5 separate regions of the Homo sapiens genome follow, and regions 1, 2, 4 and 5 are each linked to region 3. The links come from fine-mapping of genetic effects on gene expression. A gene starts in region 3. Each other region holds a variant in brackets. All regions are shown on one strand. Distances are from middle to middle.

Region 1 (6,426 bases), 22 kb after region 3:
TGCAGTCACTTTTTTTTTTTTTTTTTCCTGACAAGGTCTCACTTGTCACCCAGGCGTGCTGTGGCATGATCTCAGCTCACTGCAACCTCCGCCTCCCAGATTCCAGCAATTCTTGTGCCTCAGCCTCCTGAGTAGCTGGAATTACAGGCACACGCCACCACGCCTGGCTAATTTTTGTATTTTTAGTAGAGCTGGATTTCACCATGTTGACCAGGCTAGTCTTGAATTCCTGACCTCAAGTGATCTGCTCGCCTCAGCCTCCCAAAGTGTTGGGATTACAGGCATGAGCCACTGTGCCTGGCCTGCAGTCACTTCTTAACTGCTTTCCCAATTTCAGTCCGTATTCCCCTCCACTCCATTTTCTACATAGCAGCAAGAACTATTTTACATCAGGTGCTGTCATTTTGTTGTTTAAAACCCTTTAGTCTTGGCTGGGCACTGTGGCTCATGCCGATAATCCCAGCACTTTGGGAGGTCAAGGCAGGAGGATCACTTGAGCTCAGCAGTTCAAGACCGGCCTGGGCAACATGGTGAAACCCTGTCTCTACAAAAAATATAAAAGTTAGCTGGGCCTGATGGCTCACACCTGTAGTCCCAGCTACTCAGGAGGCTGAAGTGGGAAGATTGCTTGCACCTGGGAGGTTGAGGGTGAAGTGAGCCATGATCATGCCACTGCACTCCAGCCTGGGTGACAAAGTGAGACCCTGCCCCCAGAAAAAAACCCTTGTTGGGAGGTCAAGGCAAGTGTATCACCTGAGGTCAGGAGTTTGAGACCAGCCTGGCCAACATGGCAAAACCCCGTCTCTACTAAAAATAGAAAAATTAGCCAGGCGTGGTGGCCCTCACCTGTAGTCCCAGCTACTCGGGAGGTTGAGGCAGGAGAATCACTTTAACCTGGGAGGCGGAGGTTGCAGTGAGCAGAGATCATGCCACTGCACTTCAGCCTGGGTGACAGAGCAAGACAAAAAAAAGAAAAAAAAATCTTTGATCTTATCAAATTGTTCTTGTTTTCCATAATATCAAAAACCCGGCATATAAATATATAACAAGTATAAGAGTGTATCGCCTAACTATATTATGGGCAGATACCTTAATAGTATCTTTCAAATAAAAAAGATACTTGCCAACTTTTAAAATAAATATATATGGAGTGCCTGAGGGAATTTCTTAAGGAGTCCATAGTCTATCATCAGTCTACCATAATCAGAATAGGAACTATAGTTTATTTTGGAATGGATTGTGAAGATTTTCTCTCACTCTGTGGGTTGTCTGTTTACTCTGCTGACTGTTCCTTTTGCCACACAAAAGCTCTTTAGTTTAAGTCCCAGCTATTTATCTTTGTTTTTGTTGCATTTGCTTTTGGGTCTTGGTCATGAAGTCTTTGCGTAAGCTAATGTCTAGAAGGGTTTTTCCAATGTTCTCTTCTAGAATTTTTATAGTTTCAGGTCTTAGATTTAAGTCCTTGATCTATCTTGAGTTGATTTTTGTATAAGGTGAGAGATGAGGATCCAGTTTCATTCTCCTACATGTGGCTAGCCAATTATCCCAGCACCAGTTGTTGAATAGGGTGTCCTTTCCCCACTTGATGTTTTTGTTTGCTTTGTCAATGATCAGTAGGCTGTAAGTATTTGGGTTTATTTTTGGGTTCTCTATTTTGTTCCTTTGGTCTATGTGCCTATTTTTATTACAGTACCAGGCTGCTTTGATGACTGTGGCCTTATAGTATGGTTTGAAATCAGGTAATGTGATGTCTCCAGATTGTATGCAGGCTCTTTTTTGGTTCCATATGAATTTTAGGATTGTTTTTTCTAGTTCTGTGAAAACTGATGGTGGTATTTTGATGGGAATTGCGTTGAATTTGTAGATTACTTTTGGCAGTATCATCATTTTCACTTTTTTTTTTTCTTCGAGACAGAGTCTCGCTCTGTCGCCAGGCTGGATTGCAATGGCGTGATCTTGCCTGACTGCAACCTCTGCCTCCTGGGTTCAAGCAATTCTCCTGCCTCAGCCTCCCAAGTAGCTGGGACTACAGGCGCACATCACGCCCAGCTAATTTTTGTATTTTTAGTAGAGACGGGGTTTCACCATGTTAGCCAGGCTGGTCTCGATCTCTTGACCTCGTGACCCTCCCGCCTCGGCCTCCCAAAGTACTGAGATTACAGGCGTGAGCCACCGCGCCTGGCCTTCGCAATATTAATTCTTCCTATCCGTGAGCATGGGATGTGTTTCCTTTTGTTTATGTCATCTGTGATTTCTTTCAGCAGTGTTCTGTAGTTTTCCTTGTAGAAGTGTTTCACCTCCTTGGTTAGGTATATTCCTAAGTATTTTGTTTTACTTTTTTTGCAGCTATTGTAGAAGGGGTTGAGTTCTTGATTTGATTCTCAGCTTGGTTGCTGTTGGTGTATAGAAGAGCTACTGATTTGTTTACATTAATTTTGCATCTGGAAACTGCTGAATTCTTTTATCAGTTCTGGGAGCTTTCTGGAGGAGTCTTTAGGGTTTTCTAGGTAAACAGTCTTATCATCAGCAAACAACAACAGTTTGACTTCCTCTTTACTGATTTGGATGCCCTTTATTTCTTTCTCTTGTCTGATTTCTCGGGCTAGGACTTCCAATACTTTGTTGAAGAGAAGTGGTAAGAGTGGGCATCTTTGTCCTATTCCAGTTCTCAGAGGGACTGCTTTCAACTTTTCCCTATTCATTATTATGTTGGCTGTGGGTTTGTCATAGATGGCTTTTATTACATTGAGGTATGTAATGGACAGGCATTCTAAGCCCTTTACAAATATTAACTCATTTCATTCTTGTAATAACTCTTTGAAGTCGGTACTATTAGAATAAACTTAAAAGTATGAGAAACTGAGGCATGGAGGGCTTTTTGCACAAGGTCCCACATCACTCTTTCTTGTCTCGGGTAACCCTGTGATTCACATAGTTGCAGACCACATAGTCACACCGGAAGTTTTTCAGGAAACCTTTCTAGACATCTTGTTAAAAACTTACAAAGGGGACAACTTTTGATGTGTAAAACAATTAGGAAGCATGTCCAGAGTCTAAGTGTTCTTTAAAAACCAAAAAAAGGCCGGGCACAGTGGCTCATGCCTGTAATCCCAGCACTTTGGGAGGCCAAGACGGGTGGATCACCTGAGGTCAGGAGTTTGAGACCAGCCTGGCCAACATGGCAAACCCCTGTCTCTACTAAAAATACAAAAATTAGTGGGCCATGGTCGTGTGCGTCTATAATCCCAGCTACTTGGGAGGCTGAGGCAGGAGAAACACTTGAACC[C/T]GGGGGTCAGAGGTTGCAGTGAGCCGAGATCGCACCACTTCACTCCAGCCTGGGCGAAAGAGCGAAACTCAGTCTCAAAAAAAAAAAAAAAAAGAACCTCCAAATAGCAGTTTGCCCATTTTCTCCTTCCAAGTTCACATATAGACCTTAATAAAAGTTATAGACTCCAACAACTAGTAAATATTTTTTTCCACTTGTTTCGTTAAATTTATTTCCATTAAATTGGGAGTAAGATCAAAACAGAATAATGTTTACTGTCATCAGTTTAAGAATAAATGTTGTGCTTACTCCGCAGAGGCGGATGGATCCACTACTTCTCCCCCCACTGCAAAATTTGGTTAAGATGTGGAAACTGATGATACCATATGTGCACCAGGACGGTACGAAAAGGGTTTATGACTCACTTACTGAGGCTTTTTGGGGAGAGCAGGGCAGGCTTCCCATGCAGGTACAAGAATGGCTTGAGAAAGCAGGAAAAGGATACTGGCTCTCCTTTTATGGTGATAAGTTGCTGAGTCTGGAGTGAAGGTCCTTATATGCCCCTTCAGCCAGGTCTTGGTTTGAACTTCCCACCTGTTCCAAAGGATGGCTCACTTGGGCTTTCTTATTAGCTTGCCCTGAGGAAAGGGGTACAGCTTGAAAGCTCTTGGCAGTCAAATATCAAAAATGATGTCAGACTCTTTATTACAAATATATTTTTAAGTGCTTGTCATTGTTTATGTTATGGGGCAAAAATCTTGCATTGTACTAAACACCATGTCACTAATAGTGTGAATAGAAGATTCAGCAGACTAATGTCAAGAATGTTTTTGGAACCTTGAACACAGGGAATATCCTGTGTGTCTTTTAAAAACACGGAAAATACTTAACATCTCTATTTTGTTTGGGTTAACACTGATGATGCTGAAATGTTGGGTATTGATTGCCTGGGTCACTATGGGCAAAGAAGCTTTTTTTGTTTTTGTTTAGTTTTATGATATTACTGATTTCTGTGTTTTGTCATATTCTTTTTGTATTTTATTAAACATGTTTTTAATAAATGGGCACTCTTATTTTCAAACTTAATAAATAGGACTCATTTTACTATGCATATCCTGGGTTTTAAATTCTGAGCTAAGAAACAAGAGATAGAAGAACCAAATTTGGGTAAAATTCAGAGTCTTAGATGCCAGAAGCCAGGGAGACGCTGGAAAACAATTATTGAGATGTGTTATAGGTTAACTGATAGTTGGAAGACAACATGCCTTTCAGGTTTGTGGTTTACTGCCTTTCATTAATTCTGACACAGTTTTTAATATTTTAATATCTCTGATATTGGGATATGCCTTACAATTGTTGGCGAGTCATAGCCAGCATTTTTATTTCTTGGGGACACAGAAAATAATGTGTCTTACCCTCAGTGGTGTCTTCAATTACATGAACTATGACAATTTTTACACCTTTATAAGTCTTTTAAAATAAAAAATTCATTTATACTTCAGAAAAAATACCTATGATTAGACCACGAGTTAGGGGAGACTTTGCAGTGGTGATTGCCTTGGAGTTGCCTTGAAGGAAGAGTGGGAGTTGGCCCAACGGGAGTGGGTTGGTGGAGAAGGCATTCAGACTGAGAGATAGCATATACAGCATATTATAAAGAGTGTGCTGTGTTGGGGAAAGGGCTAGAAGTTTGATGTGGCAAAAATGTAGGCTCTGGGATGAGATGAGAATGATAAACTGGCTGGAATGGTAACCTGGAGCCAGCCTTTGAAAGGCTCTGTGTGCCGTGCGAGGGAGTTGAGGCTGTCTTGGCATGTTAGGCAGCATTGTAAAGCAGCTCTCCCTCCCTGTTTGCATCAGCAAAGGGGTGGGCAGCATTGGCACCAATAACAGAAGAGTGAAGACAATACATATGTCGAATAAGATCTCTAGCACAGAGTTCTCCAAAATGGAAAGGGCTGCACCCTGGAATCAGATGGAAGGGAGAACTTTACCAAGGGGGTGCTATTTCCTTCTGCTCTGTTGTGAATGGAGTTGGGGTTCAGTGGCCTGTTTTAGAAGCCTGTTTGTGGGCAAGCTGTGTGACAAAGTTGTTGAAAAATGAGGAATGGCTTTCAGAGGGCAGTATTAATCCATTTGGATGGAAATTTAGGAGTGGAACATGTGTTTCTAAGCTGTTTTTGGCTTTTTCCTAAGGGCTATATATTCTTAAATTAAAGGTGATTTATCATTCTTAGTTTCCTCTAAAATATAACTTTTTGTAGAGGGAGGCTTTATCACAAAATTTAAGAAAAAATAAGTTTGTTATTCTTGCTGTGGTTTTATTTTTATAAGAAATTTGGGAATTTGATCCTTCATAGCAGAAATTTGTTCAGTTTGGGTCTCCAAACAAGAGACACAGAAAATTTGTTCATCAGAGAGCCACTGAGATATATAGAGAGTTAGAAGATCAGTCAGGAAACATTAATGGAACCGGAATTATACAATAGAGGAAGAAAACTGCAAATATTTCTGTTGTTTCAGCCTAATTTTAACACTCATTACCATTTGCAGCCCATAAGCGAATTGTTTTGCATAGAGCCTGCATTGCTAAGCCAGTAGAAGGAACTAGTCTTTTAAAAACATTTTCTAATTTCATTCCCTTTTATTTTTGAGACAGGGCCTCACTCTGTCGTCTAGGCCGGAGTGCAGTGGTGCGATCTCAGCTCACAGCAGCCTCAACTATCCAGGCTCAGGCAGTCTTCCCATCTCAGTCTCTCAAATAACTGGGATTTACAGCATGAGCCACCATGCCTGGCAAATTTTTAAAAAATGTTTTGTAGAAACAGGGGTCTCACTATGTTGCCCAGGCTGGTCTAGAACTCCTAGGCTCAAGTGATCCTCCTGCCTCAGCCTCCCGAAGTGCTGAATGAACCACCACACCAGGTCTTTTATTTCACGTTTAAATAAAAATGTTAGATAGTAGTATGTTGACATAGTTCAAAAGTTAAAAAAGAATACATGATAAAAAGTCTTCCTCCTAGTCCCCTGTCCCTTTGCTGAGGAACTCAGTGTTAGTATCCTGTGTATGGTTCCAGAGATATTTTATGGAGATGTGAGCAAATCTATAAGTGATAGCATCTCATACACATGGTTCTACAGCTGCTTTTTTTTTTAACAGA
Region 2 (6,426 bases), 68 kb after region 3:
CAATTCCCTGGAATTGTAACCTCTTCCTTACTGCTGAGGCTGAGAAGAGGATCTTTTCTACTTTACTCCATTTAGGGTTTTTCTTTATATCTGTGTAGATTGTGGCTTTTTGTTTTTTCTTTTTAATTTTATTTTAAAACAGGAAGAACAGTTATCTGATATTAAAAATCAAGGAAGCAATATTTGTATTGGTCACAATACGCTCAGACTAAAAGAATTATGCTGTAAGTAGTTGTATTGAAGAATATTTGAAGTGCTTTTAAACTATTTGTTTAAAACTATACCTATTTGTATAACGTGACCAGATCAAATTGATTGTATCTTTGGGTGGCACCAAATATGTTGGTTTCTTGCATGGATTGATTATTCTGAAGCTCATGATTTCTGTGGGTCTCAGGTGCGTGGAAGTTCCCATCTTAGTCCTTAAGACTCTTACCCCAATTGTAAGAGCTGAGGAATTCTGTGATAGCTATTAAGATAAGAGATATTCCTAAGAAGGAATATATTATTACAGAAATTTTCAAACATCAAAAAGGTTTGAAAGAATAATGTAACAAAGCCCCATGTACTTGCTTTAACTATTGTCAACGTATGTCCAATCTTGTTTCAAAGTCAGTCCTGGATGTATCATCCATAAGAAGTCTTCCTGAAGACATTCAAGAGGGAAGTCTTTGCTTTGGAACCCTGATGTGATCACGTTAATCATTGCTTCTATGCCTGTAGCTGAAGGAACCGCCAGCGTTTTCAGTCCTCTAATCCTTCTGCTTCCCTTTTCCAGGGCCCAGTCATATATGCACAGTTAGACCACTCCGGCGGACATCACAGTGACAAGATTAACAAGTCAGAGTCTGTGGTGTATGCGGATATCCGAAAGAATTAAGAGAATACCTAGAACATATCCTCAGCAAGAAACAAAACCAAACTGGACTCTCGTGCAGAAAATGTAGCCCATTACCACATGTAGCCTTGGAGACCCAGGCAAGGACAAGTACACGTGTACTCACAGAGGGAGAGAAAGATGTGTACAAAGGATATGTATAAATATTCTATTTAGTCATCCTGATATGAGGAGCCAGTGTTGCATGATGAAAAGATGGTATGATTCTACATATGTACCCATTGTCTTGCTGTTTTTGTACTTTCTTTTCAGGTCATTTACAATTGGGAGATTTCAGAAACATTCCTTTCACCATCATTTAGAAATGGTTTGCCTTAATGGAGACAATAGCAGATCCTGTAGTATTTCCAGTAGACATGGCCTTTTAATCTAAGGGCTTAAGACTGATTAGTCTTAGCATTTACTGTAGTTGGAGGATGGAGATGCTATGATGGAAGCATACCCAGGGTGGCCTTTAGCACAGTATCAGTACCATTTATTTGTCTGCCGCTTTTAAAAAATACCCATTGGCTATGCCACTTGAAAACAATTTGAGAAGTTTTTTTGAAGTTTTTCTCACTAAAATATGGGGCAATTGTTAGCCTTACATGTTGTGTAGACTTACTTTAAGTTTGCACCCTTGAAATGTGTCATATCAATTTCTGGATTCATAATAGCAAGATTAGCAAAGGATAAATGCCGAAGGTCACTTCATTCTGGACACAGTTGGATCAATACTGATTAAGTAGAAAATCCAAGCTTTGCTTGAGAACTTTTGTAACGTGGAGAGTAAAAAGTATCGGTTTTATTCTTTGCTGATGTCCTTTCTGCTTGAAATAACAGTCACCATACAGCTAAAGGAGAGGAGTTTCTTTCCTTCTAAGTAGGCAGAAATGGTATCATTATGTTGCCGCTCTCCAATCTCCCAGAGCTCGCTCTCTAGAGAATCACCTTCTTTCGCTTTTTTTTTTTTTTTTGAGGTAGAGTCTCACTATGTTGCCCAGACTAGCCTTGAACTCTTGGGCTCAAGTGATTCTCCCTCCTCAGCCTCCCGAGTAGCTGGAACGAACTATAGTTGCACCACTGCAGCTGGCAAGAATCACCTTCTTTATAAAGCGTCAGTCATGCTTCCAGCAAGAGGCAGCATCAGTCATGGCTTTATAACAGCTTCATGGTGCCTCAAAGACTGTTGAGGTTAATGAGAGCCTAGATTAGACAGTTTGGCTGTCCTTCCCTAAAACTTGTTTTCTCCTATTCACTACTCCCCACCGCACTTAAAATCTATGAGTTTTTACTTTTTACTGGGAATGGAAAGTGTGGTGAAGATCATTCAACACTTATGTTGTCATTTCTCCCATTTTCTGAATTTTTTTTTAAATTTCCCCCCTTTTAAAATTGTTCGAAAGCCCACAGTTATGGAAAGAATTACTGTCTAGATGGTCTGCAGAACGTGTTTGGGGTGAGTGGGAGTGAGGGGCAATGTTACTTTTTCTCCCTGTAGTTTGGAGTCCATTATGAGCTGCTGCTTTTTCTTCTCATCTTGTCATCTTCTGGGGATGTTTGAAGGCTGAGTTCCAACAGAATTCACAAAGGGAATAAAACAGGATTGAGATTTTGAGGTGTGCACAAGGTGGTAAGATAAAGGGCATATGAGCTTCAAAACTAATGCTGTTGCATACATGAAGCCTTTTGTTTTTTGAGGAGCTATTTTTGTTATTCTTGTAACGCTCCACCTTACATGCCACATCTGTGTGAGTCAACAGGGATCAGGTTTGGTCACCACACATGTCTGAAGCTGGGCAGCGTCTGCTCTGTGTTCTGTGTGGAATGGAGAAAAAAACGCCTGCCCTGCTGCCTTCCATGTTCATAGGCCCAGCCCAAGAGAGTGACACACAGTGCTGGCCCTGAGACATTTCCACAAAGTGGTCAACTCTGCCTTGCATCCTAAAACTTTTTGGGCATCTATTTTGAAAACTATAGGAGCCTTTGGAAGGCCTCTTATGTTTGGAGGGGAAGGGTGTTGAGATTGTCACCATCCTTCAAGCTGAGACTCCTGGTGAGCCTTTGCCACCATGAAAACCACATAGCTGACCAGGGCTGTGCTTGAGGTACAGAGGACACACATTGTAGACAGGCCTGTGTCATGTTTCCTTACAGTCGTTTTTTACAGAGAAAAGGGGCATTGTTTTTTCACTGCTTTCTCAACAGTTCCTGTGAATAAATGAAACATTTCGGAGCTCCCTGAGAGCAAGAGCCTTCACTT[C/G]TTCTTGCGGTGCCGGGACCATGTGTTGGTGAAGCTGGTGCTGTGGGGGCCACTCACTCGAATGACACCTGGAGGCCTGTTCCTCCCTTACCACTCCCTTCCCCAGCCCGACTTCTTGGCCTCCTGCCCAACCAGACACCTCAAACTCTGTCAGTGCCCTGGCATTCTGGCAGAGAATCCTCACCAGTTCTCACCAACCTTCCCCCCAGGCAAGGGCAGCTGCCAGCATGGTGCTCTGCCAGGACAGGTTTCCCTGAAGGAAGCTGCTCACACTGAGATGAGCCTCTCAGGGCAGGACCTCTTCCCAAGCCCTGCACACCCACCCCTGCAGCCCTTTTGGCTCCCCTTTTCCCTGTGCCTCAGCACTCCTTTCCTGGTTGCAGATAACGAACTAAGGTTGCCTAAAGGGCAGATCTGCCCTCTCCATGTCTTCGTCCTGGCAAACAGGGTCGTCTTAAAATTATGCGCTAATTCTGTATGGGAGCACTCAAAAGGCATTACTTAGAGATTGAAATTTCAAACTATCTCTAGTTTTTCAATGGAAATATATCAGCTAGGGAAAAACCATCAAGCTCATTATTATTTTTTGATCTTCAGTTGTATTTTTGTGAATATTTTAATACATCTTTTTCAATTTCTGAATTGTGTTGTGTGCTCATTTTGACCAGAATAGAAAAAGAGATATGCCTTTCACTCATATCATTCCAGCTACACCTGCCTTCTTTTCTTCAAAAATGCCGTCCGTGTGCCTGCTTCTGGGCCTTTGCACATGCTGTTCCCTGGGCCTGAAGCATGCCTTCTGCCAATATTCCTGTGGTTTGCTCTCTGACTTCCTTTAAGCCTCTGCTCAAATGTTACCTCCTCAGGGAGACCTTCTGTGATATATAAAAGAGCAAGCCCCCCACCCCACCGCCTCAGCCTTCCTGGCCCCCTCAGTTCTGCTCTAGTTACTCTATTTCTCTCCCTCTTTCCCAGTACACACTTGTCTGTTCTCCCGCATTAGAACATAGTTAACAAGAGACCAGAACCTTGCTGTTTTGTTCACTGCTCCGTCTGCAGTAAAGGGAACAGCACCTGGCACTTAGCTGCTCAATACATGTTACGTGGATGGATGAGTAGGTGGAAGCATTCATCCATTCAGCAACCTACACTGAGAACAATCCTGTGCCAAGCACTGTGCTAAGCATAAGGAAACAAAACAAGACAAAGCTCCTCAAGGAGCTTGCCACAGGGTGGAGGTGACAGGTGACATGAATGGAAGTAACTAGTAGTTACCAAATACTTGGTGTGAGCCAGGCACTTTGCATTTCTTTCTCTATTATTTCTGTGAGTTAACAGTAATTGTACTAATCTTAATCCCATTGTTTGAAAGATTATATGGCTTACCCAGGGCCACTTAGCTAATAAAGGAACAGAGAAGAGGGGCTGGGCCTGGGGCCGCTGTTTGATCCACAGCCTTGTTCCTAACCACTATGCCCTGTGGCCTCTCACACCAAAAGGAAGTACCAAACTGCTTCCTTACTCAAATAAATGTGCTGAAATGCAGTTGCAGTTTTCTCCCAGTCCCTTAGGAGCTGGTTAGAGAGTCCCTTAGGAACTTGAGAGGGTAGTGTAGTCTAGGTGGTAGGCACAGATGTCTGAGAGCTTTAACCTCAGTCTGGAAGACAATGTGGTGACTTAATTTGTTGAGAACTATGTTACAAATAATGTGTTACTAATAAAACATTGAGGCTTCGCAGTGACTTAGTAATTTTATAAATTACCATGGATTCACAATGAGCCCCTGCCTTGCATAACTTTGGGCTTGCAAAACCTAATGCGTTCTTGAGTGGGAGAAGATGAGTTACAGCTGGCAGGAACTCCCCTGGGAGTAATTCTCACATGTGAACAGCATCCATCTTGCGTGATGTGACAAAAAGAAAAGGGATGCTTCCTTCACCACACAAGGGCAGCAGTGAGTGATGGAATCACATTTTTGTCATCTCTGCAATTCCTTCCAAGTCAGCACTAAGTGTCGGAGGGCATCCACCTGCTGGGGCTCTGGTTTCCAAGCTACATAGGGGCCTTGCCAACCAAAGATGGACTTTTTATTTATGAGAGCAGCTTCCACCCCTGAGGGAGCTGAGTTGAGCAGTGTTTAGAGGAAACTCAGATACTCTCTCACCCCAGTTGGCTCCCTTCTGACCCCTCTGGGTAGTTCCTGTGCTAACTGGACTGGGGAACCACTGACTTCATCCTCCCACTGTGCAGGAAAGGCGAGGGAGCAGCCACGGGGAGGAAAGTGGCATCTGTGGTATTGGTAGAGCTGGTGGTAGGAGCCAACCATCTGCTTTTATGGCGGGTTCTCCCCTGCACTTTCCTCTTGCATAGTCAAGATATTGTATGAACAATTTCAATATATTTTGTTTTTTTGTAGAATTACTTTAATGAAATTACCCTTTGATATAATTTGAAAAAAATTTTTTTTTGAGACAGTCTTGCTCTGTCATCCAGGCTGGAGTGCAGTGGCATGATCTTGCCTCACTGCAACCTCCACCTCCTAGGTTCCAGCGATTCTCCCACCTCAGCCTCCCCAGTAGCTGGCATTACAGGCACGCGCCACCACACCCGGCTAATTTTTTGTATTTTTAGTAGAGATGCCCGCCTCAGTCTCCCAAAATGCTGGGATTACCGGTGTGAGCCACTAGGCCCAGCCCCTTTGACATAATTCTATCAGCCTACATTGAAGTATGTCATAAAAAAGAGTCCTAGGAAACTAGCTACTTATTGTACTTTACTGCCAGCATGGCTTTGAGAACGTTATTCCCTGTCATACATTTTTCAATGTTATAAAGACCCACAGCACAAATATCTCTCTGGATTTAATACCAGATGATATGGTTGAGATCTGTGTCGCAGCCTAAATCTGTCGAATTGTGATACCCAGCATTGGAGGTGAGGCCTGGTGGGAGGTGATTGGATCACAGTGGGTAGATTTCTAATGAATGGTTTAGCACCGTCCTCCTTGGTACTGTTCTCGTGATTGTGAGTTCTCATGGGACCTGTTTGTTTAAAAGTATGCAGCACCCTCCCACTCTGCTCTCTCGCTCCTCCTCCCGCCACGTGAGACGCCTCATGAGAAGCCTCACTACCCCTTTGCCTTCCGCCATATTTGGAAGCTTTCTGGGGCCTCACCAGAAGCCAAAGACGCTATGCTTCCTGTGTAACCTGCAGAACGGTGAGCCAATTAAACCTCTTTTCTTCATAAATTACCCAGTCTTGGGGTTTTGTTTTTGTTTGTTTTTTG
Region 3 (6,426 bases):
GACATTCTTTGTGAAACTGATTTGGCTTCAGGCGAATCTTTCTCAAGGTGGCCTGGGATTCCTCTTTGAATCTATCTGATTTGTTATCTGCGAGGAGTCAAATTCTCAGGGTTCCTGGGACACCACCCACATTCCAATTTTCCTCTGGCAACAGATCTTGAAGACAAAGACAGACAGGCTAGAAATTGGGACTCTTTTTCTCTTGATTATACTTCTCATCCAATTTATACCCAGTCCTGTAATTCTTTTCGTGAAATGTCTCTCAAATCCTGTCTTCTCATCCCCACTATCAATACCTTATTTCCTGCTCTCTTCATTCTTGCCCTGCTGCAGTGGTTACCTTTTTAAAACACAGATCCGAACTTCTTACACCCCTTTCACCACTCTCCACTGCCTCCAGAAAAAACACAACTCAAGGCTCTTCAAAATATGACCGCAGCCTCCTTTCCTGGCATTCTCTCTTCCCCTCTTTCCCTCACTCCCCTCAAGTTGCAAACCACAAAGGATTCACCTAATGTTTCTCACACTTGGTAGGTGATTTCTTTTCTCTGAATGTGCTTTTCCTGTTTTCTCCGTTCTCTGAGTTTGCTTTTCCTGTTTTCTCTCTGGTGAATTATTCATCTTTTAAAGTTCACCTTAAATGTTTTATCCTTGGTGAATCTTTCTAGATGCTTCTTGGGCCAGTGGATTTTAGGAGAGCGAGGTATATGTGGCTGAGGTACATCACAATCAGCAGAGAAGCTTTAAACACTGCTGAGAGTCACTGTCCCTGCTGGCCTTGGGTTTCTTCTTTATTCACTCTTCCTTTTTTTGAGACGGAGTCTCGCCCTGTCGCCCAGGCTGGAGTGCAATGGCGCGTGATCTCGTCTCACTGCAACCTCTGCCTCCCAGGTTCTGTAGCAGGATGAGCCGCAGACAAAACTCCTCAGACACGGAGTTAAAGAAGGAAGGGGTTTATTCGGCCGGAAGTATCGGCAAGCCTCCTGTCTCAAGAGCCTAGCTCCCCGAGTGAGCAATTCCTGTCCCTTTTAAGGGCTCACAACTCTAAGGGGGTCCGCGTGAGAGGGTCATGATCAATTGAGCAAGCAGAGGGTACTGTGAATGGGGGCTGCATGCACCGGTAATCAGAACGAAACAGAACAGGACAGGGATTTTTACAATGCCTTTCCATATAATGTCTGGAATCCATAGATAACATAACCGGTTAGGTCAGGGGTCGATCTTTAACTACCGGGCTTAGGTCAGGCAGGCCCAGGCCTGGTTTCGGGTCTGGTTCTTAGGCGCCGGGTTACCTGCCTTTAATTTCGCTTCTCTTTCCTTTTCTGAGTATAAAACTATATGAGAGGTTCTGTCTCTCTTCTCTCAGTTCAAGCGATTCTCCTGCCTCAGCCACCCGAGTAGCTGGGTACAGTCACGCGCCACCCATGCCCGGCTAATTTTTTTGTATCTTTTAGTAGAGATGGGGTTTCACTACGCTGGCCAGGCTGGTCTCAAACTCCTGACCTCGTGATCTGCCCGCCTCGGCCTCCCGAAGTGCTGGGATTACAAGTGTGAGCCACCGCACCCGGCCCTCATTTTTACAAATGTAATTGAGTACTTGTTTGTGTACACTAGTAGACGATGTGCTTCTTGAGAGTAAAGCCCAGGTGTTCTACATCCATGGTTCAATTAATGCATTGGTATCTTTTCCAACCTATGGCATTTGAGATACAACTTCAAAAGGATCTGCTGACAGAAATAGGGCAAAGTGGTTCTGGTATTTTTTTTTTTTAAGTTTTTTTCTCACTAATGTTCTTATGATTTCGCTGTACTGCAATGTTAGCTGAAACAGCACAGATATCAGGAATGGCATTGTTAAGACTGACCTTAGACAAAAACCCTGAAGTGAGAGGTTACATTTTGGGTTCTCACCATACTCTTCCCCCGCTCTTGTCCTAATTGTCTAAAGCTTGCTTCCCTTCCTCATCGTATCAGCCTCCCACCTGAATCTTCCCTTTTCCTCCTTCACACTCATCTTTCTTGTGCCCCTGTCCCCCATTTTTCCCTTTTGTAAGCCATTTTCATAAGGATCCTTCCAAATATTTCCCCTATTGATTGGACAACCCGTAGGTGGCAGACTGTTCTGGGCCAAGGCAACCAAGTTGAGCAGGGCCAGCAATCAGTGTCGGGAACTTCTGCAGGGCACTTCAGAATCAGTGTTGGGAACTTCTGCTTTCTATTTTTCACGGACACAGACAGGAACACAGATATGCGAAAGCAAAACAATCAAAAAGCATTTTCATTTGTTTTTCAGGTAGTAGGAAAGAGTTCCAGATTCCCATCCTTCTGAAGCCAGGAGGGAGGTTCCTAAGAGGAGGTTAGGGCAAGATGGAGACTTCTTTTTAAACTAGTAGATTTCGCAAATTGCAACACATACATTATCTAGTCCACGCAAAGGACAGGCCTTGGGGACACGGCACGGGGAACGTGTTCCACCTGGACGACTGAATCAGAAGTCTCTCCCCCATCAATTGAACGCCTCATTATTTTTCTTTCTGTCTTTTCTTTCTTTTTAAGGTAAATGAATTGCTTCTTTTTCGTTAGGTGAGGCCGGCAGAGAACAAGAAGAGCTGAAACGGAGGCGAGGTTAGTACCCAGCAAAGACCTGTGGCGAGGAGAGACAATGAAGAGGACCACGGGACTGGACCCTGAGAAAGGCAGAGGAGACGCTGGCTGGTGGGGCCCGCAGGCGGACAGCCACGCAGGCAGGCGGAAGGCTCGGCTCGGCCTGGGACCGCTGCAGACCCGGCCTCCGCGCGGGGCCGAGGCGCCTGGGTGGGACCGAGGAGGCGGGGCCTTCCCGGCGGACGGATGATGGACAGCCTGACTCTCCAATCGCGTCCTTAAAAGGGTGCGGGCAGGCCAATGAGCGGACAGCGAGGGCCGGAGTGGGGCTGAGGCTTCGGTGCAGAGCTGGAGAGCCGCGGCTGGGACCGGAGTGGGGAGCGCGGCGTGGAGGTGCCACCCGGCGCGGGTGGCGGAGAGATCAGAAGCCTCTTCCCCAAGCCGAGCCAACCTCAGCGGGGACCCGGGCTCAGGGACGCGGCGGCGGCGGCGGCGACTGCAGTGGCTGGACGATGGCAGCGTCCGCCGGAGCCGGGGCGGTGATTGCAGCCCCAGACAGCCGGCGCTGGCTGTGGTCGGTGCTGGCGGCGGCGCTTGGGCTCTGTAAGTGATGCCAGGACCAGGGCTGGGGCCGGGGAGTGGGGCCCCCGGGCCCGACACACGCCCATCGCGGCGGTCGCAGGCCAGGCGCGCGCACTGAGAGCCGAGGTGGGGAGGGGGCGCGGCCTGCGCTCTCTGGGGCCGAGGGGACCCAGCCCATGGGGAACGCGGGCCTCCGCGACTGGCCGGGAAGGCGCAGAGCCTCTTTCTTCTCTTTCCTGGATCCTGGAGTGCGGAGGAGGAGGGGAGAGTGCTTTACCTTGCTCCTTCCCGGGGGGCGGTCCAGGGGAGCGGACCCGGCGGGCGGCTGCGGTGAGCCCTCGCGGCGCACCCTGCCCTCTCCTCGTGGTGACTCTGGATCGTCTAGGCCCTCCCGGATTCTGACTCAGGAACTAGGGTTCTGGCGTTCTTCACCTTTGGGAGGTGGCGGAAAGTTGCAGGTTTTTCATTTGTAGGGCCTTTGTTGATTTGTTTCCTGTTAAGCCAGGGTTTTGTTGTAAGTTCCCTTTCCCATGCTCTCATTCAGTTTTAAGTCTCCGTAATAAAAGAGTCTCATTTCCGTGGTCTGCAAAACGCCAATAAAAAAATATTGTTACTTCTAGGTTAGAATGCAAAGAGCTTGGAATACCAGTGAGATGGCCTGGCTTAAAAGAATTTGGTCAAATCCATCATAATTCCAGACGTAGCCACCATAATTTGACAAGACATAGAGCATTAAAAAGCATAATTTTCCTAAAGGAAAAAAAAAGCTCCTTTTTCTTACCAAATATTGTGACTCAAGCTTAAGGTAAACCTCGGGCTCAATTTATGGGAATTGGATGACTTGTTTTATGGACATCTGAAGTGGTATCTGCCACAGGACTTTTCTGTGTTGTTGTTCAAAGCAAAGTACTTGTTGCTGTCTCCGAATTTAGTTAAATAATAGTTATAAAGAGGGCCAGCTGCTAAGAAACCACGTAGATTTTTTTCATTCCCTTTGTTTTCAAAATGTCAGTTATGATTTAGCATCACAGTATCTGAATACCAGAGTTTACTCAGTAATTTCTTTCTTCATGGAAAAGTTCTTAATATAATCCTTGGATCAGGGAAACTAGGTGAAGTTCTGTTGGATCACCAACTGTTCCACTTAAACAGTGATTCCAGGGGCTGTAAAGCATAAATGTAAAAGTCTCCCTACCCTCCAGGGGTTGACAGATGATGACACACTTTGTGTAAGACACAATCCATTCTGTATTTTGTCTTAGAAAAAAAGGTTAAAAGTGTGTTTGTTGGTGGTGGTATTTGTGTTTAATCAAACAAGTAGAAAATAGCCTAAAATTAAGGTTTATCAGAAATATGCTTCAGACAGAATTGTTATGCATGAGAGGTCAGACATTGCTATGGAGGACAAAGCAGTTAGGGTGATCTTAATTAAAATCAGGGTATTAAACGTAGAAGGAGTGCAAAACTACATAGTAGTGAAAAGATCACTAGAGTAATAGCCCCATACAACTTGGACGTAACTCTTCAGTAATGAAGATGAATGTTGATATGTAAAAATCAGCAGCTGATGTTATTGGTTCAACTTAGAAAATTATTGAATCTAAAATTCTTGCCAAATCACCTCTTTTCTGGTCATGGATACTGCACATAAGAGTTTATCTTTTACAGGATAGCTTCTAAAGTTTTATCAAGACAGTTACTCAGCAAACATTCACTGAGCACCTTTTAAGTGCTTAACACTTAAAAGGTGGGAGGTTAGGTCTCACTGTGTTGCCCAGGCTGCTCTGGAACTGAAACTCCTGGGCTCCAGTGATTCCTCTGCCTTTTCCTCGCAAGCAGCTGGGGCTACAGGTGTGTGCCACTGTGTAGGGTCAGAAGCACATTGGTAAAGATGTACTGTGGGAGCTTGAAGGAGGGTCATTATCTCAGACTGTAGTTCAGGCTACTGGAGGAAGGGAGTTTAAACTGGGTAGGCATGGGGGAGGGGCAGAAGTACATACAGAGTTATGAATGAACCTGTTGGTAGTTCAGTATAGTGGGAGGTTGGAGTGTATATAAGGGGAATGGTGGGAGTTGAGGCAGGAGAGCCTGCCAAGGGCACCAGCTTACAAAGGGCCTTGTCTGCCACACTTAATCCAATGAGGATTTCTCTGTCTATTGAGATGTGAAGGATGGGTTAGAGTGGGGTGAGGCTGAAGCCAGAGAAGGCAGAGGACTATTGTAATAATCCCGGGGAGGATGATGAAGATCTGAATTCAAGCATTGGGCTATGAAGAGAGGACACATGTTGATGCGCCACTTAGAAAGTACGTTTGATAGAGCTTGGAAACATTGATGCAGGCTTGAAAGAGGAGGTGGATAAAATGATCATAGGTTTTGGGCTTGGGAAGCTGGGCATATTTTTGGCCTTTTCACAGATGGGGAAATAGGAGTCTTGGGGGAAGAAGATGATGGAGATACTTTTGAATATGTTGAGTTTGAGATGCGGGTAAGACATCCAAATGGAGATGGGCAGAAAACAATTGGATAGACAGTTCTGGAGGTGAGGAGAAAGTTCTGGTTGGAAATGGAGATTTAGAGAGTTATGTGGCTAATAGTTAAAGCTTGGATTGTTTGGATGAGGGCATCCAGGGAAAATGCACTGAAGAACATAGCAGAGAGCCAAAGACGGAGTTTTGGGGTATATGAAACCTGACAAAGAGTCTCTGTGAGTAAGAGAAAAACCAGGTGAGTTTGGTATTTCAGCATTGTCAGATGAAGAGAGATAAAATGTGATAAGAATTCACTGAATTTGGTAATTGAAATGAGCACATAGTATATGAGGACTAAATCTCAGTAATTTGTACCATCCATGTCAGTAAATGGAACCTCCATACATCTAATTGTGCAGGCCAGAAACCTAGGGTCCATCCCTGATTCTTCCCTGTCCTTCACATCCAATCAGTTCTCCCATCTTTAAAATGCATCTGGAATTGATGTTTTTTCTACCTCCACTCCTAGCCTTTTAGTCAAAGTCACCACCATTTCTTGCCTATATTACTGTGATAGCCTCCCAGCTGCTCTTCCTCTTTTTCCCCCTCTGGAGTCTTGCTCTGTCTCGCCCAGGCTGGAATGCAGTGGCACAATCTCGGCTTACTGCAACCTCCATCTCCCAGATTCAAGTGATTCTTCTTGTGCCTCAGCATCCCAAGTAGCTGGGACTACAGGCATGCACCACCATGCCTGGCTAATTTTTGATTT
Region 4 (6,426 bases), 56 kb after region 3:
GAAATTGGATTGTGAAGTTACATAGAGTTTTTATGCACATCTGAATATTTGTGCTCTTCATGTAAAATGCCATTGTGTATGTGTGTGTGTGCATTAGTTTTCTTTTTTCATATATGTATTATGTTATCAATATTTAAGATCCTGACTGATTATGTATTAGAATAATTAAACCATTTTGGTTCAGAGCATGTAGCCTCCCATTTCACAGAAGGAACAGTTTGCAGAATGCATGGTATGCTTTGGTCTTAGTAATGACACTTTAAATGTGATTCTCCCCAAACTCCTAAGTTTTAAAAGTATATATCAAAAGGCTTTAAGCTGTACTGATGACACATCTCATTGGAAAATCCCTACGCTGTACCCCAGCTTTCTTACTTCCTGGCATTCACTTTCCCTGATTCATTTATGAGATAGTGCTTGTTGTTAAAGACTACTGTCACCGTGAAAAGGTTCAGCCTGTGTGACCTGGCATTCCCTAATTTCTCATTCATGACTTCCTGAGTTTTTGGGGGGATTTGATTGTGGTATTGGTAGGGAATAAAAATATGGAGAGAACAAGATAAGCCAAGACTTGCCTGGATATATATCTGTAATTTAAAACATACATTCAGAAGAGGTTTGCCTTTGATTATAACAAAAGTGAATTGCCATTAAGCTAATAAAAGGTACCATAGAGCTTGTTCCCTTAAACCTTTATCCCAAAGGAGGGTTGATGGCAGGGGGAAAAGACAAACAGCAAAAGGATAAATGTGTATTGTAACTAGAATTCCAATATGATTTTTGTAAACTGGGTTGAAGAGGTTGTACCATATTTGTTTCTGTGCCTCCCCCAGTGATGAGTTCATTGACTTAGAAGAATGAGTGAGTGTCAGGTATAGAAAATAGTTTAAAAACATGTGATCATTTTGACACCCATTGTTATGTTGTCTTTTGTTTTTATATATCTGTTGCTTCATCTTGCCGTCAGTTGCATTTCTATATTTTTGTTTCTATTTATTTATTATTATTATTTTTTACATTTGTTCTTCAAATTGCCAATTCATCAGCTGCAGTACATCAGAGAGTTTGTCACCAGTTAAGCAGGCTCCTCGGAAGTCCCCCTCCGACACTGAGGGTCTTGTAAAGAGTCTGCCTTCTGGATCTCACCAGGTAATGGCTGATTGCGATTCTGCCCACTGCACTGTTCCCTACAGCTTGGTGCTCTGTCACTTCCTTGGGTGTGGAAAAGAATACTGAGCTATGAGAGACAGAGACAGAGACAGACAGACAGAGACAAAGAGAGAGTGGGAGTGAGGAATTAAAGGGCTGGCCTAGGAAGACCACAGGAAAATATGTGGTGAAGAATCTGCTTGAGTAAAGATTTCCATGAAACCACCAATAACATAAATTGTTTACTAACCATGTAGCTTCCTTGCCTCAAGCAGAATTAGGAAATGGCTTTGTCAGTAAAAGATTCTTTAATTGCCCAAGGAAATGAATCTAATGAAGGAGATTCTTTCTGTATTGAGGTACTCTAAGATAAGAAATTAGCAAGGAAAAGTTGGTATTCTTAGTATTGATAATAAAACCAAAATTATTTTCTGTGGATTCTTTAGAAAAAATGGAAAGTAAGCATTTATCTGAATAATTAATAGGCTTGATGAACAAGGAATGGTTTTGGTTTCTACTTGTAGAAAGTACAGAAGAGAAACAGGTTTTATTTGGAAGTTAGCATATAATCTAGCTTTGTGTGTTTTGGCTGTAGTATTTTAATTATAACTGTGGCTTGGCAAAAATTCCATAGCTTAGTTCAGTTTGATTTTTCTGGGGTAGAAAGCATGCTAAAGAATTTGGCCAGTTATAGCTTTGTCCTAAAAAGGTGTTAGCTGGTGGGAATGGATTTAAGAGGAAATAAAGAGAGTAACAGTGTTTTGTGGGAAAAGTACCCATAGTCTTATTCCATAGTTGTTATATGTGGTGAGGAAACTAAGGCATTGTGATGTTAAATTACTAAAAGCACACACCCAGTTAGTGACAGAACTGGGGCTAGAACCCAGGTGTCTAGATAGCATGTTCTCTACCACAGCATCAGGCTCATTACTTGTTCCTGTTCTATCTGTCTGTCTCTCTCTCACATTACATAATATATGTCAGATACCTCAGTCTACTAATTTGGGTTGTGAACAGGAATATGGTTGTAAATGAAGACATGAAAGTTACATACACATAGGCATAGCATCTAAAAAAGCATTGGAACATTTTTATTCCGCCCTTGAAGCACTATGGAAGTTGCTTTTTTGCTGAAAACAAACCAGAAAAAAGAAAAAGAAACTGTGGTTTTCAAGACAGTGGAACACAAATTATGCAGCACTGTCATCCCCAAAAGAAAGGAAACAGACAATGTGAGCCGTGTTATTGCCCCAGTGTACTGCCTTGAAGCAGTTTCCACACTGCAGTGTAGGTGGGGAAAATGGAAACTGGGCCCAGCTGTCTCACTCAATTGAGAAGGCGGAAATCAGAATTTGGGGAGGTCAAGGAGGCTAAGATTTATGAGGCTGAGTACCAAAGAAGGAACCATAGAGAGAGCGTGCTAGGATGAGCACGAGCACTTCAGAGATTTGGAGCGGGGTCCCCTTGAGTCTTTGTCTGATTACAGAGTTGTATACACATAGGAGAACACTCTCTGAAACCAGGGGAAGAACTACCTGAAATGCAGTAGGTTGCACAATGCCTGGTGCTCACACAGGTGAGGGACTAGTTTGTGTTCCTAAGAGCCAGAGTAGAGAGACTTATAATACACAGGGTATTGGTTGGGGTTCTCAAAATGGTCATACCTAAATGGGTTAAATTAGTACCAGAATAAAGGATGCTATGGACCCACCATAACAAAGCTTAAAAGGAAGCCTTTAAAGAATCAAACTAATCCAAAAGTAATTTAGTTGCATTTTACAACAAAATCCAACACGCTTTATGCTACAACAAAATTCATCACCCAACAATGTACAATTTACAATGTCTGGCACCAATCAAAAACTACCAGGCATGGCCTGGTGCGGTGGCTCACGCCTGTAATCCCAGCACTTAGGGAGGCCAAGGCGGGTGGATCACGAGGTCAGGAGTTCGAGACCAACTTGACCAACATGGTGAAACCCTATCTCTACTAAAAATACAAAAATTAGCCAGGTGTGGTGGTGCACACCTGTAATCCCAGCTACTCAGGAGGCTGAGGCAGGAGAATCACTTGAACCTGGGAGGCAGAGGTTGCAGTAAGCCGAGATCACACCACTGGCACTCCAGCCTGGGTGACAGAGTGAGACTCCATCTCAAAAAAAAAAAAACAACTATCAGGCATAAAAAGAAACCAAAAAATAAAACACATAAGCCAGATATAGTGGTGTGTACCTGTAGTCCCAGCTACTTGAAAGCC[T/TA]AAGTGGGAGGATTGCTTGAGCCCAAGAGTGTAAGACCAGCCTGGGCAATATAGTGAGACCCTATCTCAAATAAATAGATGGGTGGAAAGAAGGAAGGAAGGATGGATGGATGGATGGATGGATGGATGGATGGATGGATGGATAGATTTAAAAAAATAATAATTTAATAATTAATTACAATAAAAAATCAGGAGAAATCAATCAGAAACAAATTCAGAATGGATGGAAATGATGGGATTCATAAACAAAGACCTTAAAATGAGTATTATCAATCTTATTAGTAAACTTAAAGATGTAAAGGAAAGCTTGAACCCAATGAGGAAAGAAATAGATATCTAAAACAGACCAAAATGGAACTTCTGGAAATAAAAAAAAATTGGATGGTGTTAACAACAGATTAGATACTGCAAAAAAAAAAGGTCAATCAACTTGAAGACATAGCAATAGAAACTATCCAAAATGAAGCTCAAAGAGAAAGACAGATGGCGGGGTGAAAGTGAACAGAGCCTAACACGGTGAAAACCCATCTCTACTAAAAATACAAAAAATTAGTTGGGCATGGTGGCACGTGCCTGTAGTCCCAGTTACTCAGGAGGCTGAGGCAAGAAAATCACTTGAACCTGGGAGGCAGAGGTTGCAGTGAGCTGAGATCATGCCACTGTACTCCAGCCTGGGCAACAGAGCGAGACTCTGTCTCAAAAAAGAAAAAAAGAAAAAAAAGAAAGTGAACAGAGCTTCAGTGAGCCACCGGACAATATCAAGCAATCTAATTAGAATCCGAGAAGAAAAAGGGAGAGAAAAAAATATGTAAAGAAATAGTGAAATTTTTAGTAAATTTAATGAAAAACATAAACACACAGAAAGCAATAGCGAAAATTGCTGGGCGCAGTGACTCAACGCCTGTAATCCTAGCACTTTGGGAGGCTGAGGTGGGTGGATCACCTGAGGTCAGGAGTTCGAAACCAGCCTGGCCAACGTGGCAAAACCCCATCTCTCCTAAAAATACAAAGATTAGTTGGGCATGGTGGCAGGCGCCTGTAATCCCAGCTACTTGGGAGGCCAAGACAGGAGAATTGCTTAAACCACAGAAGCGGACATTGCAGTGAGCCAAGATCGCGCCACTGCACTCCAGCCTGGGCAACAGAGTGAGACTCCATCTCAAAAAAAAAAAAATTGACTCTTTACAGCAAAAATAATGACAGCATTTTATGAGGCTATAACATGTGGAAGTAAAATGTATGACAACAGTAGTACAAAGGATGGGGTGGAAGGATGGAAGAATACTGTTGTAAGGTCCTTATATTATCCATGAAATTATAATTTGAAGGTAGACTGTGGTAAGTTAAAGATATATGCTGCAAATTCTAGAGCAAACACTGAAAAAAATAAAAGAGATAGATACAGCTAACAAGCTCTATCTCCGAATGGCAATACTGATAAGAACAAAATTCTGACATATGCTACAACATGGAAAATGGTAAATGCGGATGGTAATAATATCAACGTTGGCATCAGAACAAGAAATAGAACCAGAGATAGAGGGACTTTTTATGATGATAAAGCGATCTACTTACAAAGAAGACATAATCCTAAATGTTTATACTTGTAATAGTAGAGCTTGAAAATAAGTAAAACTGAGAGAATTGGAAGGAAAAATTGACGTATTTACAATCATAGTTGGAGGTTTCAACAAGAAACTTTAATGTAATCATTTCAAAATACTCAGTTAATCCAAAAGTGAGCAGGAAAGGAGGGGAAAATGAGCAAAGGGTAGATGGGGCAAATAGAACACAAATAATGAAGTGGTAGATTTAAACTCAACCAGACTGATGATTGTATTACTATAAATGGGCTGAGTGTGCCAATAAAAGGTGGAGATGGACAAATTGGATAGAAAAGCAAGAACCAATCATATGCTGTCTGCAATAAACCACTTTAAATAAAAAGATCCAGGTAGGTTAAAAATATTAATACAAGGATGAAATTGAAAGCAGAGTCTTGAAGAGATATTTGTACATCCATGTTCATAGCAGTATTATTCACAAGAGCCAAAATACAGAAGCAACCCAAGAGTCCATCAGTATACAAGTGGATAAATAGAATGTGGTATATATATACACAATGGAATATTATTCTGTCTTTAAAAGGAAAGAAATTCTGACACATGCTACAACATGGATGAATCTTGAAGATATGCCAAGTGAAATAAGCCAGCCACAGAAAGACATACTATGTGATTCTACTAATATCCCATACCCTACAGTGGTCCAGTTCATAGAGACAGAAAGTAGAGTGGTAGTTGTTGGGGAAGGAAGAATAGGGAGTTGTTTAATTGGTACAGTTTCAGTTTTTGCAGGATGAAAATATCGTAGAGATTGGTTGCACAAGGATGTAAATGCACTTAACACTACTAAGCTGTACACTTTAAAATGGTAAAGATGCTAATTTTTATGTTATATATATTTTACCACATTTTTTAAACAGTAAAAGGATGGAAATGATATGCTACATTAACACTAATCAAGAGAAATCTGGGTGGTAATAATATCAGAATAGGCTTCAGAACAAGAAATAGAACCAGGGATAAAGACAGACTTTTTATGATGACAAAGTGATCTACTCATGAAGAAGACATAATCCTAAATATTTATACTTCTAATAATAGAGCTTGAAAGTAAGTGAAGTAAAACTAAGAGAATTGAAAGGAGAAATTGACATATTCACAATCATAGTTGGAGGTTTCAACACTCCTTTCTCAGCAGTTGGTAGAACAGGTTTACAGAAAATCAAAAAAGATGCGGAAGACTTAACAGTGAAACCAGTTTGAGCTAATAGACATTTATAAAACACTCCTTCCATCAAGCGCAGAATTCTTACTCTTTTTAAGTACACATGAAAATTAACCAAATATAGACCATATTCTGGTTCATAAAACAATTCTCATTAAATTTAAAAGGGTTGGAATCATATAGAGTACGTTCTCTGGCCACAATGGAATTAAACAGAAATCAACAGAAAG
Region 5 (6,426 bases), 49 kb after region 3:
TTACACACGAGTCTGATTGCAGTTAATCCCAGCATGTTCAGTTATTGACATAGGATCCTTTAATTCCAAAATGTCGGGACACATTTAATAAGATGAGTGGGTTGCTTTTTTGTTTTTATAGGTTTTACAGGAAAAGTATATTCAAACCCAGTATATTCAAAAGCCATACTGTGGATGGCTTTTTTGGCCCATGGCCTTGGGATCCACATGTCTGAAACTGAACTCATTTTTTCTCCCTTCTGTTTCCCTTTTCTGCTTTTTTTTTTTTTTTTTTTTTTTAGGTTAATTGTGTTCATCTGCAGATGAGTTTTGTAATCATTTTGTTTTGTTTTGTTTTGTTTTGTTTTGTTTTGTTTTGTGTTTTCTGTCCTTTCCTTCCCTGTCCCTTACCACTTCCCTTCTGCCCCCAAGAAATAAGAACCTTTGCTGGTTCTTCCTACTTTGTTTCTGGTGTCTAGCTTTTTGTCAGCCTTCCTGTGTCTCTGCTGTCTATTGAGCAATGTTAACTGTGTGCCTGGTCTTGTGCAGTAGCCCCTTGTTATTCTTCTGCTTCTGTTTTTCTCATCTTTCAATCCAACCCTCATATGCCAGCAGGTGCATAGTCTTAGAACAGCTCTTTCACCTTGCCACTGCAGGTTATCAGGAACCTAGATTCCCATTGTGGACAACATTTGTCTAGAATTAAAAGCTCATTACAATTTGGCCCAGCCTACCACTTTAGCCTCACTTCTGTTCTCTTATGGCATCACTTCCAGTTTAGTAAAAATGCTTTGTGCTTTGTTTTCCTACTTCTGAACACTTGTCATTTAAGCTGTACCCCATTTTTACCCTCTGTCTCCTCCATAATGCCTCTTTTTTTTTTTTTAACCTTTTAGCCCTTAAAACTCACTACCCTTATCTGGGCCATTCCTATAATACAGATCCCTTAATATGACAGTTTTCCTCTTCTTCCTGAATATGGGTGTTTTAAGAGGACTTGCCTGTCTTACATCTTTAGTATACCTCATAGCTTTAGCACCATGGCTTGTACTTTAAAAATATTGATTGATAATGATTCTAGTCTTTTCTGTGAATTTTTCACTGTTTTATTTCCATCTCTCACTGGTTTGACCAAGACGTTATTCCTCAGTTTGATTCAGCAAACTATGTAGTTCCTGCTGTGTCCAAAGTGCTAAGGAGTACAGAGATAAATACATCTTATCCTCTGCCTTCAAATGGCCCCCATTCAATGAGGGAGCCTGACTGAGGGAGCTGTCTCAGACCCAGTGCTGAGAAACAGCATCATGTAGCTCATCCCCGCTGGTTCAGAAATGCAAGGCAGGGAATATGTGGAGATGTTGTGGGAAGGGAAGGCAGAGAGCAGGTGATGGAAGGATTCATTTGCAAAGCTGAGAGTTTATGGTTCATTTTCTAGTGAAGAAGAGAGAGTGAAGAACTTTGAACAGATAAGACATGATCTCACCTGAGAGGCCTTAAACATTGGAAATAGCATAAGCTTTGAAATCAGAGCTGAGTTTGAATTCCATCTCTAAAACCTGTGACTTTGGGAAAGTCACCAAGGTTTCCTGAGCCTCACATTCCCTATTTATGAAATATCAGGTAGGCGAATCTCACCTTGCAGGGTGGTTGTGAGGGCTAGAGAGTTGTTGGGAGACAGTTTTCTATGGGTCTTTCACGTTTTTGCACACCTTGCTAGCAAAGGCACTGGCTGCCTTTGTTCTGGACTTTTTTTATACAGTAACTAGCTTTGGAAGGCAGAGATGATGTTACCCTCTGGAGCAAAGGACAAATTTGTGTATTCTTGAGTATAGTAAAGGTAGTGTCTCCTTTCAGGGCTGAAGTCAGACATGTCTTCTGCCCCTTGTAAGAGAATAGTGTTCCCTGAGCTTGGGGTTCCTCGGCTGTGATGCAACGCCTCTGCCTGCACAACATCCATGTGAGCCCCTCCATGTCATGGCTATGGGACTTGCGGGGCAAGAGAAACAAACACATGCTTTCTGCTCATAAGGTTCTTTGTTTCTGAGTCTTCTTCATGGGAGTGAAGATTTCACAGGAGTCCGTGTCTTCTGTCAGCACCTATGAACCTGTGGCCAACTAACTTTGTTAGCTTGTAAGTAGGGTAAAATCTCAGACCCTTCACGGTTCTTAACAAGCATTTAGGTCATATGAAATGCAGGGTAAATATTTGATAAATGTTATAATAATAACCATTATTCTTTATCAGTGATCATTTAGGCATTGTGGAAGATGATGAGTTAGACATACCAGTTAAGAGGCCATAGTCCAAGATGATGAAAACATAAAAACAGATATTGTCAGTGGGAACCGAATAGAGAGAAGAGAGAACTGAGAGAAACTAATGAGACATTGACAATATTGGGGGATTAACTGGATAGGAAGAAAGAGAATCAAGGATGACTTCAAGATTTATGGTTTTGGAAAGAAACAGTAGCCATCAGTGAAGACACGATACATGAAGAGGGGAAGATGAAGTTTGTAAGAGAGGGTGACAAGCTTGGGGGAGAGGGGCAGCCAGGTGGTAAAGTGAGTAGGCAAGGAGTCTAGAGCTTAGGGGACGCTA[T/C]TGATGGAGAGAGAGGTTTGGGAGTTAAGAAAATCTAGATGATCATTAAATCATAGGAATGGATGAGTCTGCACTGGGGTTTTCACCGTGCTCAAAGGGTTCTGAAAATGTTCTGTTTGAATTGCTAATAGAGCTGGTTTCTATCCCCAGCTCCACCATCACCCCGTCCATTAACCAGAACAAAGACATCAGGCCTCCAGCATAGCTGCTTGGATTAGAGCCAAGTGTGAGGATAGATCCCCTCCCACTGGGCCTTAACCCTGCTTCCAGGTGCTGAGTTTGACAAGGTTTACTTTGAGAAGACAGTTCCTTTGCTGAAAGCAGGACTGAGGAGAGACTGAGGAGTGGAAAGAGAAAGGGGCTAAAGGCTGAACTTTCAAAAGCCGGCAAGAGTATCTTGTGTTATCTGGGCTTTGTTCCTTTCACACACCCATGACTTTTCCATAGGAAACCAGAAGGAAGAGGGCGAAACTCAGATTAGCTGATCTGAGATATTTAGGATTCTTCTCCTTTGTGCTTCTGTGTATCTTAGTGGTAAGCTAACTCAACACTAAGCTTTCTGAAGCCTTGGGAATCACTGGGCTCAATCATGGTGTTACTGGAAGAACATTGGCTTTGAAGACTCAGATGGGCCTAAATTTTACTCTGGGTCCCCAATTTACTATCATTGGTACCTTGGGAAAATGGCTTCTCTTAAGTCTCCATTTTGTCTTTTATAAAATTATGGGTGGTAATAATTATATCAATGAAATATTGAGAGGATTAGAGGTGATATATGAGTCTGATTCTTCCATTGAAACCTGGCAGGGTTGAGTGCCGTGATCTCTAAACTTCTGTCTGGCTTAGATTCCATAACTTGTGATTTGTAATATGATGTTGCATTTCTTTTTTTTTTTTTTTTTAATTGATCATTCTTGGGTGTTTCTCGGAGAGGGGGATGTGGCAGGGTCATAGGATAATAGTGGAGAGAAGGTCAACACGTGAACAAAGGTCTCTGGTTTTCCTAGGCAGAGGTCCCTGCGGCCTTCCGCAGTGTTTGTGTCCCTGGGTACTTGAGATTAGGGAGTGGTGATGACTCTTAACGAGTATGCTGCCTTCAAGCATCTGTTTAACAAAGCACATCTTGCACCGCCCTTAATCCATTTCACCCTGAGTTGACACAGCACATGTTTCAGAGAGCATGGGGTTGGGGGTAAGGTTTATAGATTAACAGCATCCCAAGGCAGAAGAATTTTTCTTAGTACAGAACAAAATGGAGTCTCCTATGTCTACTTCTTTCTACACAGACACAGTAACAATCTGATCTCTCTTTCTTTTCCCCACATTTCCCCCTTTTCTTTTTGACAAAACCGCCATCGTCATCATGGCCCGTTCTCAATGGTCGCTGTCTCTTCGGAGCTGTTGGGTACACGTGCAGAAAGGCTGTCACTTCACACTTGGAAGATTGCACAGCGGCCAGGCAGAGGCGCTCCTCACTTCCCAGACGGGGTGGTGGCCGGGCAGAGGCGCTCCTCACTTCCCAGACAGGGTGGCCGGGCAGAGGGGCTCCTCACATCCCAGAGGATGGGCGGCCAGGCAGAGACGCTCCTCACTTCCTAGATGGGGTGGCAGCTGGGCAGAGGCTGTAATCTTAGTACTTTGGGAGACCAAGGCAGGTGGCTGGGAGGTGGAGGTTGCAGCGAGCCGAGATCACACCACTGCACTCCAGCCTGGGCAGCATTGAGCATTGAGTGAGCAAGACTCCATCTGCAAACCCAGCACCTTGGGAGGCTGAGGCAGGCAGAACACTCCAGGTCAGGAGCTGGAGGCCAGCCCGGTCAACACGGCAAAACCCCTCTCCACCAAAAATACAAAAACCAGTCAGGCGTGGCCGCACGTGCCTGCAATCCCAGGCAGTCGGCAGCCCGAGGCAGGAGAATCACAGGAGCCCGAGGCAGGGAGGTTGCAGCGAGCCAAGATCACGGCAGTACAGTCCAGCCTCAGCAACAGAGGGAGACCGAAAAAAGGAGGAGAGAGAGGGGGAGAGGGAGAGGGAGAGAGATGTTGCATTTCTTTCCGTATGAAGTCTTTAAAAGAACCTTTCATAGCATGCACATTACAGAGTTTAGGAATTCTGCCTTTGAGAATAGTTCATGTGTTCCTTTTTTCTAATTGCAGTTTTTCCACTACTCCCAAGGGCAAGTGTACCTTGGGAATTATCCACCATTTAAAGACAGAATCAGCTGGGCTGGAGACCTTGACAAGAAAGATGCATCAATCAACATAGAAAATATGCAGTTTATACACAATGGCACCTATATCTGTGATGTCAAAAACCCTCCTGACATCGTTGTCCAGCCTGGACACATTAGGCTCTATGTCGTAGAAAAAGGTACTTCCTTGAGTATTTTGGCAGTAATAATGCAGTCTCCTTTATCTCATGTTTGGTTGGAAAACATGAGTTGCATTTCATGGTGGGTTTGGAGGGAGGATTTTTGCCATACAGTTGTGCTCCCTGTTGCCACGAACCTGTGGCTCTACCAAACACACTTGGAGCTGGGAAACTTGTTGCTCATTCTGACCCAGAGTGGCTGATTTCTCCATTTTTATTCCTACCGTCTGGTGCCTATTGGTCTAATTTCAGGAGTATGAATTTTTCAGTGTTAATTAGAAGAAAGACCAAATTCATTATGTTTGGATGTGATGGGCAGTGGGAAAGAAGGAGATTCATACTGTTTTATATTCTCCAGGAGAAAGCTTTCAACAACAGCACAGTTATTTCTTCCTTTTGATTTTGAGAACAAACAGGAAATGCAGGTTCTGGTGTCTCATTTTTGAGACAAAGTCTGTTTTGTTGGAGAGTAGATCCAGGTAAATTCACACCTCCGGTTTTTCTTTAGAGCACTGAGAGGGATTGTAGGTGTAGAAATGCTTAGTTCCATAGTTCATTCTTTCTCATCTAATATTCACATGTCATGAATTACATAGTAATAGGATAGATAGTAGGATCTCATAGTTTGGATAATAAAAGAGGGTACGGTAACTGCTAAATGAAGATACTTGCTCGTTAATTTAATAAAATTCCATGTTTTCTCTCTGTAGCAATGTACCTTAAAACTATTTTGTTCTTTCTCTCTAGAGAATTTGCCTGTGTTTCCAGTTTGGGTAGTGGTGGGCATAGTTACTGCTGTGGTCCTAGGTCTCACTCTGCTCATCAGCATGATTCTGGCTGTCCTCTATAGAAGGAAAAACTCTAAACGGGATTACACTGGGTAAGAAACACTGTTTTTTTAGGGCAGGGGTGGAGGGAGGGAATCAGGGTTTATAGAAACTTCTGTATTTAATGAAAAAAGGATTTTAAAGAATTAACTACTATTTTCTTTCATGTCAGAATCAGGCAGTCTCCTTAGGAGGTGTTCTAACATGGGCAAGTGGAAATCAGTGGGCCTGCTATTAAATGTGGAATATGATTCTAATCTCTGTTCCAGTTTCCTTCTTAGGTTTGGTGAGATGAGCTGCTCAGCAGTCTGTGCTCTGTGTTTCAATACCATCCACTATGCAATTAGTATTCTTAAGACATCACTTACCCAATTTAAGAGTTTAATTTCAATTTCTTGCTAATAAACTCACAAGGTGGTTCTTTCCAGTTAGGAAATATAAAACCCTAATTAAGAAGTTGTGAGCTGGAATTAGTGGCATGTGCCTGTAAGTCCCAGCTACTTAGGCTGTGGCAGGAGGATTGCTTGAGCCGAGGCGTTTGAATCTAGCCTAGGCAACATAGCAAGATCCTGTCTCTTTAAAAAAAAAAAAAAAGAAAGAAAGAAAGAAGAAGAAAAAGCAGTGGTTTTAATAAACTACCTCCCCCA

What was found.
Region 1: its variant is fine-mapped to the expression of MPZL1 in whole blood (Lepik 2017, PIP 0.95).
Region 2: its variant is fine-mapped to the expression of MPZL1 in blood mononuclear cells (TOPMed, PIP above 0.99). The same link has a PIP of 0.9 or more in T cells, monocytes and monocytes after interferon gamma.
Region 4: its variant is fine-mapped to the expression of MPZL1 in unexposed skin (GTEx, PIP above 0.99). The same link has a PIP of 0.9 or more in fibroblasts.
Region 5: its variant is fine-mapped to the expression of MPZL1 in whole blood (INTERVAL, PIP above 0.99).

Annotation. Positions count from the first base shown.
Region 1 is chr1:167,741,322-167,747,747 of GRCh38, forward strand. The region is part of intron 1 of MPZL1 (myelin protein zero like 1); the gene reads left to right. Among named protein-coding and RNA genes, the nearest start is that of MPZL1, 23 kb to the left of the region's middle. The variant C/T (reference allele first, on the strand shown) is at 3,287.
Region 2 is chr1:167,787,042-167,793,467 of GRCh38, forward strand. MPZL1 (myelin protein zero like 1) reads left to right here. Exons shown (of 6, transcript NM_003953.6): 6 at 779-4,878. The coding sequence ends at 880. Among named protein-coding and RNA genes, the nearest start is that of MPZL1, 68 kb to the left of the region's middle. RefSeq lists a silencer at 5,542-5,690. The variant C/G (reference allele first, on the strand shown) is at 3,141.
Region 3 is chr1:167,719,036-167,725,461 of GRCh38, forward strand. MPZL1 (myelin protein zero like 1) reads left to right here and starts at 2,947. Exons shown (of 6, transcript NM_003953.6): 1 at 2,947-3,207. The coding sequence starts at 3,117. RefSeq lists enhancers at 549-1,048, 3,275-3,775 and silencers at 2,587-2,956, 3,347-3,416, 3,447-3,586.
Region 4 is chr1:167,775,018-167,781,443 of GRCh38, forward strand. It overlaps MPZL1 (myelin protein zero like 1), which reads left to right. Exons shown (of 6, transcript NM_003953.6): 5 at 1,047-1,149. Among named protein-coding and RNA genes, the nearest start is that of MPZL1, 56 kb to the left of the region's middle. The variant T/TA (reference allele first, on the strand shown) is at 3,407.
Region 5 is chr1:167,767,537-167,773,962 of GRCh38, forward strand. MPZL1 (myelin protein zero like 1) reads left to right here. Exons shown (of 6, transcript NM_003953.6): 3 at 4,739-4,952; 4 at 5,700-5,832. Among named protein-coding and RNA genes, the nearest start is that of MPZL1, 49 kb to the left of the region's middle. RefSeq lists enhancers at 2,464-3,035, 3,970-4,471. The variant T/C (reference allele first, on the strand shown) is at 2,582.